Linked DNA regions of Homo sapiens. The protein of the gene in region 1 purifies or fractionates together with the protein of each later gene. This does not show direct contact. Each region holds a gene or a part of one and is shown in the gene's direction. Other genes may lie near its edges.

Region 1 (3,652 bases):
GAGTGTTATCAAGATGACCTTAGGTAATATTGCTGTATGAAGTTATCTAGCATTCCTTTCCAGAAACGAATTTAAAGACATCTGTTTACTTTGTATTTCTTTTATTATTAAGATACATTTCATAAAGCATATTGCCTTTTAAAAATAATGTCAGTGTTATACAACTACTTTTTTGACAAAAAATTTGTAAATAGAGGAATCAGCATAAAGTGTGCTATTTCAGAAATTATTTCATGTCAATCTCACATAATCCTGGGTCCTGATCACTGTGGGAATCTCTAGGGATCCAGCAGAGACAAGGCAGCTAGAGTGCCTGCTCTCATGCAGATTATATTCCAGTGGGAGACATGGCAAACAAGTCTGCAGAAAGAAAGATAATTGGGATCATGACCAATTGGAAAAAGTTCCAGGAAGGAGATAAACAGAGATGGGAGGGGGAATATCTTTTCTGATATGGAAAGGATGCACATGAGCCAGCTATTCATTAAGTGGAGGAGGACAGCATTGCAGGCAGAGAAAAGGCAAAGGCTCAGAGGCAAGAAGGGGCTAGGTAGTACAGAAATTGTATTTCAAATAAAATCTCTCCTCTGGGGCACTGGAAAGTCACTGAAGGTGCTTTAACATGTACAAATGTAGTTAAGCTAATATTCAACTTTTATTCCAGGAGACCTACCATTACAGTAAAACAAACTAATATTTCTATCTTGTCTTTTAGGAGCTTTTCCACCTTCCAAGGGCCATAAGGAAGCTGTTTCCAGGGAGATGACCCTCAGCAACTTGTGGATATTTCTCATACAGTCTTTTGCATTTTTGTCAGGCTATATGTGGTACAACATCATTCAGTATTTTTACCATTGCCTGTTTTAGGAATTGACGTGGACTTGTCAAGGTCACCGTAGGAGTTCAGACTTTCTTTCATAAGTGTGCATTATTTTACATGTGCAAATCAGAATATATTTAAAAAAAAGCAAAAGAAATTCAATGGATGGATTAATATTTATCCCCCTTTGGGATATTTTAAAATCTACTAAAATGAGGATTAGTAATATAATGACCTGCTAATATATTTTAAGAACATGTTTTAAAAAGATACACTCTATCACATATTTAAGCAAACATCACATTTGGAGAAGAGGAAATCATAAAATCATCCTAGAAGACTATCTGAGAGAAATTCTGTTGCCACCAGTTATACTTGACAATTTAGTTGAAGCTCAGAAAGTTATATTCATCCCTCTTAGCTGTAGTCTATATTAGGGCAGTTCTCTAGAACGCCCACATTTCCACCAACTCAGTAAACTTGAGGGGAGCTGGTTGGCACCTCGTGAAGAACTCTTTCCCTGTCGTTTGCAGTAACAAACTCCAGTCTGTTGCAGTAACAAACTCCAGTCTGTTGCAGTAACAAACTCTAGAATATTGACATTCTCTGTGGGGGAAAAGCAGTGTCCACTGGACCCCTTCTGGTACTGGATGTGTTCTTTACAAAGGCTAGCTCAGTCCAACACTGTGTTTACATACACTCGTGCTTTTCCTTATCTGACTTCTCATTTTGTATCAGAGGCATATCATAAATTGATAATTTTGCAAAATGCACTTTTTTGAGATGCAGATATAGCAAAGGATTAGTAATATAGCCTGAAAACAAATGGGAGCATAGCAGTGTGTGAGGTTCTCGAGAACTGTCTTGTCTCTGTGTGTTTATTTGCCTGCCAGTGCTCTCCAGCGCCATCCTGCCCTGGACACCACCCTGACGTGATGCCTCTATTGCAGCTCAGAGGCTTTATTTTTTCCATTTTGACATTGGCACTAAATGCATTTGGGGATGGTTAAAACAAATTACTATAGAACATTTAAATGATCAGTTTAAGGGGAAATAGGCTAGTTTATAGAAAAATAAGAGCTAGTGGCTTATAATGGTGACAGGTTCTCATGTGGCACCCCTAGGACCTGTGCAGACAGTAGTCTGTTGAATCATTACATCAAGGAGCTGCCCCTGTCAGGGTGAGTGTAATTAGGAACGATACCAGCACATAAGGCTCCCCCCAATCTCTTCCAGTTGCTTTTTCTTTTTTCTTTTTTTTTTAGACAGGTCTTACTCTGTCACCCAGGCTGTAGTGCAGTGGCATAATCTCAGCTCACTGCAGTCTCTGCCTCCCGGGTTCGAGCGATTCTCCTGCCTCAGCCTCCCGAGTAGCTGGGACTACAGGCACCCACCATCATGCTTGGCTAATTTTTGTATTTTTAGTAGAGATGGGGTTTCACCATGTTGGCCAGGCTGGCCTCGAACTCCTGACCTCAGGTGATCTGCCCACCTCGGCTTCCTAAAGTGCTGGGATTGCAGGCGTGAGCCACCACGCCCGGCCTCCAGTTGCTTTTGAAGAGGGTAAAGTCAAGTTTCTATTTCTAGAAAACATTTTTTAGAAATTTGTTGCGATGTTTGTACAATTTACCTCATAAGAGAACCACACCCTTCTCCAAAAGTGCTGGTACTGCATCAGTGAGATGAGTAGGGTTTTTGTTTGGGATTGTAAGACTATTAAGATCCTAGTAAGTCAGTGGTAGTTTACTGTGATGTGAGCATTGTAGATTCCCCCGTTGTCACTAATCACACAACAATTTTGAGAAGTAGGCTATAAAACAAAAAAAGGTTGCTGTTTTCTATTTTTAAATAAACCAAAAAAAAACAGAAAAGATGTGAATTTTCCCCAGTTATGTGGGAAAGGTAAAGCAACACCAAATAAAAGCCCACAGCAGCTTCATCTTTACGATAACTCAGTGCATATGTGAAAGAGAATGATGCATTAACTGAAATACCTCATTGAATATTATACTACTACTGGTAAAATGCAGAAGACAGTGTTAATGTGTTTGGTTTGGGGACTGGTTGTTATAAAATGCAATTTTTTTTTAAATCTAAGCATTTCATTATGTGTTCTACAGTGTCGGTGAATAAATGAAACCAATCTCAATTTAGAGGTATGGATGATGACAGAAAGCCCAATAGAAGCTTAATGATGCTTCTGTTTGAGGCCCAGCAAGCACCACTAAATTACTGGATGAAATGAAATTGTTCACTTGAGGGATTAGTCAACCATCTGGGGGAGAAGTTGCTCACTGTCAAATACAGCATGCACGGTCCTAGCTGATAGACCTTTTCCTCATTGCTACAGCAAGCCACAGGGTAGAGTGACCAGTTCTCCTATCCAAAAATAAATGCGAACATGCATACATAAATGTGGCTGAGGGCCACTTTTGCCATCACTGTGCTCCAAAGGAACATGATATTGTTAAATATACTGTACACATTAAACTATTCTATAAGATGCTTTACTTTTCAAGTACGGTGTCATTTTCACAGTCTCCAGGGTGACAAATGCCAATAGATATGTGAGTTAATTTTTTTAAATATCTCCGTGAGTTGTAAATAGATGTGTATTTGATCTGCCCTATCCTTCTTTGATTCTTTAACATGTTCTCTCTCTTCTGTTTGCAAAATATGTTTGAAAGCATTGGTAGTGCTTTCCTTATCAGTAACTGGAGTTCTCCTGCTTGCACTAGAGAAGGTAAAGAGAGAATCAGTATTCTTATATGGCAATCTGGGGAAGCAGCAATATGCCACTGTACAAAACTGAAGAAAAGTTCCTAATTTGTA
Region 2 (3,652 bases), on another chromosome or scaffold:
CCACTATGCCCGGCTAATTTTTGTATTTTTAGTAGAGACGGGTTCTCACCATGTTAGCCAGGCTGGTCTCAAACTCCTGACCTCAGGTGATCCTCCCGCCTCGGCCTCCCAAAGTGCTGGGATTATAGACGTGAACCACCGTGCCCAGCCTGAGATTTTGTTTTAATTGCACCCTAGCAAGTTGCTGGTTATCTATGGTGCTCCTGATATAGAACGATAGTTAAAAACATGAGAATATTCTATTTTGGAAGTGTCTTCAGAACTATATAGTGTCATGCCTGATATTAAAGGTAGTCCTTAATATGAAACCCAGGTTTTTTTTTAAAAGGTAATCCTGTCTAAAGGCTTCAAGGAGAGGACTTTTTTTTTGTACCATAAGTTACATTCTGTCCAAATGTAAGAGGAATTTTTTCATTAGACTCATCTTCAGCTAATTGTTTTGTGTGTTCTCTGCTAGTGAGGTGGAATGACTATTAATCTGTTACCACCTCTCTTTTTATTTATGTATATATTTGAAATGATAGAGAGGTCACAAAATTATTCTTTTTTGCAGAGGAAGACTTAGAGGGCAAAACAGAGGAAGAAATAGAAATGATGAAGTTAATGGGATTTGCCTCCTTTGACTCCACAAAAGTAAGTAAAACGTGCAACATTCTCATTTGAATTAATATGTTATGACTGTCCTATCTTTCCATGTTCTTTTCCATTTATACAAATTTATTTGGTTATAAGACAATAACTATCTGTTTGAAGGGCTTTGAGAATACAAAGGAGGAAACAGTGAACTGCCATTGGAATTCAGGGAGTGGTTGCCAGGGACGATGTTTGAATTAGATTTTAAAGGACAAGTAGAAGTGATCAGACAAAGAAGAGGAAGAAGATTATTTCAGGTAGAGGGAAGAGCTCATGAAAATGCCATGTAGGTGTAAAGGAGCATAGTGTATTGTGGGAATTTCAGATTCGACCAGGGATAAAGGGGTGCTGATGGGCTAGTGACTTAGGCTAGAAATAGAGGTAGGAGGCAAATCACAGAGGGCTTTTGATGCCCTTAGTCATGCTAAGGAATTCAGAGTTTATTCTTTTGGTGTTGAGGAGAGGAAGTAGTGATTTTTAAATAAGGGAGTGGCATGGTTATATGTGTGTTTTGGAATAATGACTCTGGGGGCAGCATGGAGGACAGATGGGAGGTGGGTTAGATTGAAGGCAGGGAGAACTGCTGATTTGTGCAAGTGAAAGATGATAAAGGCCTGAACTGAGTTGAGAATGATTCAGGAGCTGGGGGAAGTGGGAGTGAGTAGTTAGTAATGCCTCTCAGGTGTCAGGCTGGGACCCTGAGTGATACAGTTAACCCAGAACAGAGTTTCTGGAAGGGGAACTGCTGGGAAATGGAAGAACAAAATCCAGCTGCCAGATAGAGATGACATTGGGCAGCTGCATACTTGTCTCATAGCTTAGAAGTGGGGTGGATAGGGGAGGGAATGCTGTCTAGCCTTCATAATAGCAGAGAGATGAGGGAAGAGGAAAAAGAGGGAGGGATTATATAGAGGAGGGAGAGCATAGAGCGAGAGATGGGGGAAGAGAGAGATGGGTATAGAGAGAGGAAATGAAGAGAGGAGAGGGGATGGAGAGAGGGAGGGTGTGTGGAAAGAAAAACATATTTTTTAAAATCTCTTTTCTAGAATTTTAAGTCTTTCCATTTAGTTTTGCAAATGGAAATAGAGATGTTTGAGAAAAAGTTGTCAAAAATAATCCACTTTCCCAAGTCTTGTATTCCATTGAGTTGCTAATGGAATGGGGTAATCTCAGTGGCTGTAAGTTTCTTTCTAACTAATGTGACTGTGTAGGGCTCACATGTTTTAAAATGACAGTGTGTAACTTAGGAGTACTGAGGCATGACTGTTTTGAGGTGAGAAATTAAGAACAAGCTCTTGTTCTTGCAATGGTTATGTGAGCTCTGTTTTGGAATTTAATGAAGTTTATTTATCAGCTTTTTTCCCTTGAATGCCCTAAATTCTTATTTATTTTCCAAAGACTATTTTATAAATGAAAGTTTATTAAGATATATGTTGGGTGAAATGTAAGTTTATTAAGATATATGTTGGGTGAATTAAAATATGTCAAAAGTAAAGCAACTATAGTTTTATTGTCTTTAGAAGAATGGGGAGGGAACTTTTTCCCCAAAGAAAATGGAATTATTTTCTTTGTTTTTTGGTTTTCCTGTTGCTGGATGTTAGGTTTAAAGTTCCTGAAAGTCAGATCTAAGGGTGGTGCCACCCATCACTTAAATGTAGTCAGTGAAGAAGATGTTTGCTTATAAAGGAAAACTTAGGTGAAAAGTCATAGATCTTAAAAAAATTATGGAGTACCATCACACTAATTGATGTCAGTTTTTTAAAATGACATCTACAAGGATGTCAATTTAGTTTATATGCAGTTGGCTTCATGGCTATCAGTTATAACGTCAGCTCATTTGTGTTTTTAAGTAATGTGTGTCTTGTGATGTTTCATCATTGATCTATTGTGGGACCTCTTCATATGCCAGTATAGTCACCCATTTTCCTTTCTATTTGATTGTATTTTCATTTTTTTATTTGTATTATTTTTTATTTTAATTTTATTTTTTCGAGACAGAGTCTCGCTCTGTTGTCCAGGCTGGAGTGCAGCGGCGCAATCTCGGCTCACTGCTACCTCCGCCTCCTGGGTTCAACCGATTCTCCTGCCTTGGCCTCCCAAGTTGCTGGGATTACAGGCGCCTGCCACCACGCCTGGCTAATTTTCGTATTTTTAGTAGAGATGGGGTTTCGCCATATTGGCCAGGCTGGTCTCGAACTCTTGGCCTGAAGGGATCCACCTGCCTTGGCCTCCCAAAGTGCTAGGATTACAGGCGTGAGACATTGCGCCCGGCCTCATTTTTTAGTTTTTTAGAGACAGGGTCTTGTTTTGCCACCCATACTGGAGTACAGTGGTATGATCATGGCTCACTGCAGCCTGACCTCCTGGGCTGAAGCAATTTCCCTGCCTTAGCCTCTGGAGTAGCTGAGAGTAGGCACATGCCGCCACGCCAGGATAATGTTTTTATTTTTTGCAGAGATAGGGTCTTGCTGTGCTGCCTAGATTGGTCTTGAACTCATGGCCTCAAGAAATCCTCCTGCCTCAGTCCATTTTTTTTTTTTTATTTTTGAAGAGACAGAGTCTTCCTATGTTGTCCAGGCTGTACTCAAACTCCTTGGCTCAAGAAATCCTCTTGCCCCAGCCTCCCAAGTAGCTGGGACTGTAGCCTCACAGCAATGTGCTTGGCTTTTCCCTTTCATCTTATTAGATTGGTGGAAAAGTAATTACAGTTTTTGCCATTGAAAATAATGGCTAAAACTGCAATTACTTCAATAACATTTTTCTAGATGGTTTCAAAGTTTGGTTTTGTTTATTAATGGATAATTTTCTATGCCAGCATGTAAATAAATGAGGATAGGGCTAATAATATGCAATTCTGCAAATAGTTTCCAGAAATCAGTAAACCTTTAGGAATCGAACTTTGTAAAAAGGTTATCATCATTTACTTTTTTGTGCCCAAGACCAGTCTTTCTAAGTCATGCTTACTTCCTATTATAGGGAGTTCAAAATCATATACCTCACAAGTAATTTGTTCAGGACT
Region 3 (4,340 bases), on another chromosome or scaffold:
TTGCCTTGTCTTGGAATAATGTGCAGATATGCATTGTGTGAATGACATCTGATGGCGCCATCTTGCCCTGTACATCATTTTAGGGACAGCTCCAGTATTTCATGAAAATTAAAATTTCTTCTAGTGACGAACAAAATGATACTCAGAAGCAATTTTGTGAAGAACAGAACACTGGAATATTACACGATGAGATTCTGATTCATGAAGAAAAGCAGATAGAAGTGGTTGAAAAAATGAATTCTGAGGTATTTTCTTTAGTTATTTTCAAATGTTTTTATATGTGTGTATATTTTAAAGAACTGTATTTTGGAAATATAAAGGATTTTTAAGTCATATATATGTGTGTATATATTCTATATATCCTTTGTCATATATCTATATACGTACGTATAGGATAAAGCCATGTTCTTAATTCACCTTCATTTGCCTGCAACAGTTGAGTAGTGACCTGCACAATGGCCTCAATCCAAAGGAGAAGTATTTGATATTTTTCATAAGAATTGATGATCTTTCCACATCAGAAATAAGTTTTGCTACTGAAAACAGATTTTCTCGTTTTTGGACATTAGTTTTTTAAAAAATGTTAATAGAGAAGTCAATTGATTATTTTTACTGATAAGAAAGTAGGAAATGTATAGCTGGGTCAGAGGCCACATTGTGGATACCATTATCCTTACTTTTGCAGAGAGGAACAGTTTGCTCCAAGTAGTTTCTCATTTCAATGTAAAGAGGTTTGAAAAGAATGACATGCCATGATACACATTTAGTAATAATTTATTGATAAGTATTTTCTTTCTGGAGAAATAGTTCAGTATATTTCCCCTATTTCACCATTACTACTGTTTCAAACATTATAAAGAGGAAATAAAAGTTACCGCAATGGCAAATAATCTCATGATTTCTAAGAAAATCTCTATAAGTTGTATCTTATTTACCATTCATATTTTGAAACAAAAGGTTTCTTTTGTATTTATATATTTACACCACAGAAGTAAGTGTGGTTTTGTGGAGGATCACTAGAAGTAGCATCAGCAGACCTGGGGAAAATCCTGCATCTGTGTATATTTTTTGACCTCTCCTTTTAAGAATCGCGATCTTAAATGAGTTCAGTATTATATGTAGAAGAGCAATGCCTAGATACAGATGTGTACAGTGTAGAAGGGTACAGTGCTTATTTGACAGTTATAAATAAATGTAATTCTTATAACTGAGTATAGAAATATTAGAAATGTAGAATATCGGTAAAACGTTCTTAAGTAAAAGAAACTTAAAGAACTTTGAGAAATTGCTTCTGTCCAAATATATGCATAGCTAAGGCTCTTAGGATGGTGTGGTTGATAGGTTAGATATCAGAGTGTAAACCTAATCTTAAAAATGTAGTCAAATTATTAATCTTATATTTTATGCCTCTGGGTTTTTTGTAACTCAGAAAAAAGGCTTTTTTTAATTCTGGGATTCTTAAAAATCCTCTAGTGATTTATTTTTCATCGTCTTTAAATAAATATTTAAACTTTTAGGAATTTAGGAGCAGATTCCTAAAAGTTTAAATATTTATTTAAAGACGATGAAAAATAAATCACTGGAGGAATTTACACTCTTATTAGGTTTGAAGTTTTGTCCAATTTTTTTCCAGTTAAATATCCACTATGGGGATTCTTTCATTATACAAATACATGTTATTTTTGAATTTCAGAAGAAATCATGATATGTCAATCTATTGAGTGCTAACTAAAAGTTCTCTTTGTTTACTTAGCTTTCTCTTAGTTGTAAGAAAGAAAAAGACATCTTGCATGAAAATAGTACGTTGCGGGAAGAAATTGCCATGCTAAGACTGGAGCTAGACACAATGAAACATCAGAGCCAGCTAAGAGAAAAGAAATATTTGGAGGATATTGAAAGTGTGAAAAAAAGGAATGATAATCTTTTAAAGGCTCTACAATTGAATGAGCTCACCATGGATGATGATACCGCTGTGCTCGTCATTGACAACGGCTCTGGCATGTGCAAGGCCGGCTTTGCGGGCGACGATGCCCCCCGGGCTGTCTTCCCTTCCATCGTGGGGCGCCCCAGGCAGCAGGGCATGATGGGGGGCATGCATCAGAAAGAGTCCTATGTGGGCAAGGAGGCCCAGAGCAAAAGAGGCATCCTGACCCTGAAGTACCCCATGGAACACGGCATCATCACCAACTGGGATGACATGGAGAAGATCTGGCACCACACCTTCTACAACGAGCTGCGTGTGGCTCCCGAGGAGCACCCCGTCCTGCTGACCGAGGCCACCCTGAACCCTAAGGCCAACCGCGAGAAGATGACCCAGATCATGTTTGAGACCTTCAACACCCCAGCCATGTACGTGGCCATCCAGGCTGTGCTGTCCCTGTACACCTCTGGCCGTACTACTGGCATCGTGATGGACTCTGGTGACGGGGTCACCCACACTGTGCCCATCTATGAGGGGAATGCCCTCCCCCATGCCACCCTGCGCCTAGACCTGGCTGGGCGGGAACTGCCTGACTACCTCATGAAGATCCTCACCGAGCATGGCTATAGGTTCACCACCATGGCCGAGCGGGAAATCGTGCGTGACATCAAAGAGAAGCTGTGCTATGTTGCCCTGGACTTCGAGCAGGAGATGGCCACGGTGGCCTCCAGCTCCTCCCTAGAGAAGAGCTACGAGCTGCCCGATGGCCAGGTCATCACCATCGGCAACGAGCGGTTCCGCTGCCCCGAGGCGCTCTTCCAGCCTTGCTTCCTGGGCATGGAATCCTGTGGCATCCATGAAACTACCTTCAACTCCATCATGAAGTCTGATGTGGACATCCGCAAAGACCTGTACACCAACACAGTGCTGTCTGGCGGCACCACCATGTACCCTGGCATGGCCCACAGAATGCAGAAGGAGATCGCTGCCCTGGCGCCTAGCATGATGAAGATCAGGATCATTGCTCCTCCCAAGCGCAAGTACTCCGTGTGGGTCGGTGGCTCCATCCTGGCCTCGCTGTCCACCTTCCAGCAGATGTGGATCAGCAAGCAGGAGTATGATGAGTCAGGCCCCTCCATTGTCCACCGCAAATGCTTGTAGGTGGACTCTGACTTAGTTGCGTTACACCCTTTCTTGACAAAACCAAACTTCTCAGAAAACAACATGAGATTGGCATGGCTTTATTTGTTTTCTTGTTTCATTTTTTGTTTTGTTTTTTATTGGCTTGACTCAGGATTTAAAAACCGGAATGGTGAAGGTGACAGCAGTCGGTTGGAGGAAGCTTCCTCCAAAGTTCTACAATGTGGCCAAGGACTTTGATTGTACCTTGTTCTTCTTTTCAATAGTCATTCCAAATATTGTGAGACGCATTGTTTCAGGAAGCCCCTTGCCCTGCTAAAAGCCACCCCACTTCTCTCTAAGGAGAATGGCCCAGTCCTCTCCCTAGTTCACACAGGGGAGGTGATAGCATTGCTTTTGTGCAAATTACATAATGCAAAATTTTTTGAATCTTCGCCTTAATACTTTTTAATTTTGTTTTATTTTGAATGATCAGCCTTCGTGGCCCCCCTCTTTTGTACCCCAACTTGGGGTGTATGAAGGCTTTTGGTCTCCCTGAGAGTGGCTGGAGGCAGCCAGGGCTTACCTGTACTCTGACTTGAGGAGAGTTGGATAAAAGTGCACACCTTAAAACAAATTGAGGAAGCACAGTATTTCAGTACAGTGGACAGCTTAGCATGTTGACAACTGAGAATAAAATGCTCAGTTCTGAACTGGACAATGTAAGACACAACGAGGAAACACTGGAAATGGAAATTCAATTACGTCATTGTAGACTGGCTGCTGCTCTACATGATTGTGACCAAAGTCAGATAGCTGAAAGAGACTTCTTTCCAGAGAACAAGACATGAACAGGTTTATTTACAGAAGACAATGAATTCTCATTTATCTCACCTAAAAGAGAACAGATTCTTTCTCAACAAGTCTAATGAAGACAGTAAAATCAACAGGCTAAAAATTAAGCTCCACGAAACAAGATAAAACTCTGAGAGAAAAGACGGGGCAGGCCGCCATCTTTCCCGTTCAGGCAACGTAGTCATTCCAGCCTGCGGGCTTTGGAGAGTACAAACCGACGAGGGACAGAAGAGATCCCACAGCACAGCATAGCTGCTTTACCAAATCATGGCCAGACTGCTTCTGTAAGCAGGCCCCTGATCCTGTTCCACCTCACTGGACAGGACCTCCCAACTGGGGCCTCCAGCTACCCCCACCAGCATTCCTTGGCCAATGGAAATGTGAAATGTTCCTGGGACAGAGCTCCCGGAGAGGGGCAGGCCCCCACCTTTGCTCTTTCGGTGAC

What was found.
Region 2: the proteins of LPGAT1 (region 1) and SNRNP27 purify together in Homo sapiens (co-immunoprecipitation; one large-scale study listed by IntAct). This does not show direct contact.
Region 3: the proteins of LPGAT1 (region 1) and POTEF purify together in Homo sapiens (affinity purification with mass spectrometry; 3 studies listed by BioGRID and IntAct, with this or other methods). This does not show direct contact.

Annotation. Positions count from the first base shown.
Region 1 is NC_000001.11:211,747,114-211,750,765, reverse strand, and holds part of LPGAT1 (acyl-CoA:lysophosphatidylglycerol acyltransferase 1), read left to right. Parts: intron 1-715; coding exon 716-867; 3' UTR 868-3,652. UniProt on the Homo sapiens protein: Lysophospholipid acyltransferase involved in fatty acyl chain remodeling of glycerophospholipids in the endoplasmic reticulum membrane.
Region 2 is NC_000002.12:69,896,824-69,900,475, forward strand, and holds part of SNRNP27 (U4/U6.U5 small nuclear ribonucleoprotein 27 kDa protein), read left to right. Parts: intron 1-553; coding exon 554-633; intron 634-3,652. UniProt on the Homo sapiens protein: May play a role in mRNA splicing.
Region 3 is NC_000002.12:130,072,986-130,077,325, reverse strand, and holds the end of POTEF (POTE ankyrin domain family member F), read left to right. Parts: intron 1-124; coding exon 125-245; intron 246-1,753; coding exon 1,754-3,082; 3' UTR 3,083-3,791; downstream 3,792-4,340.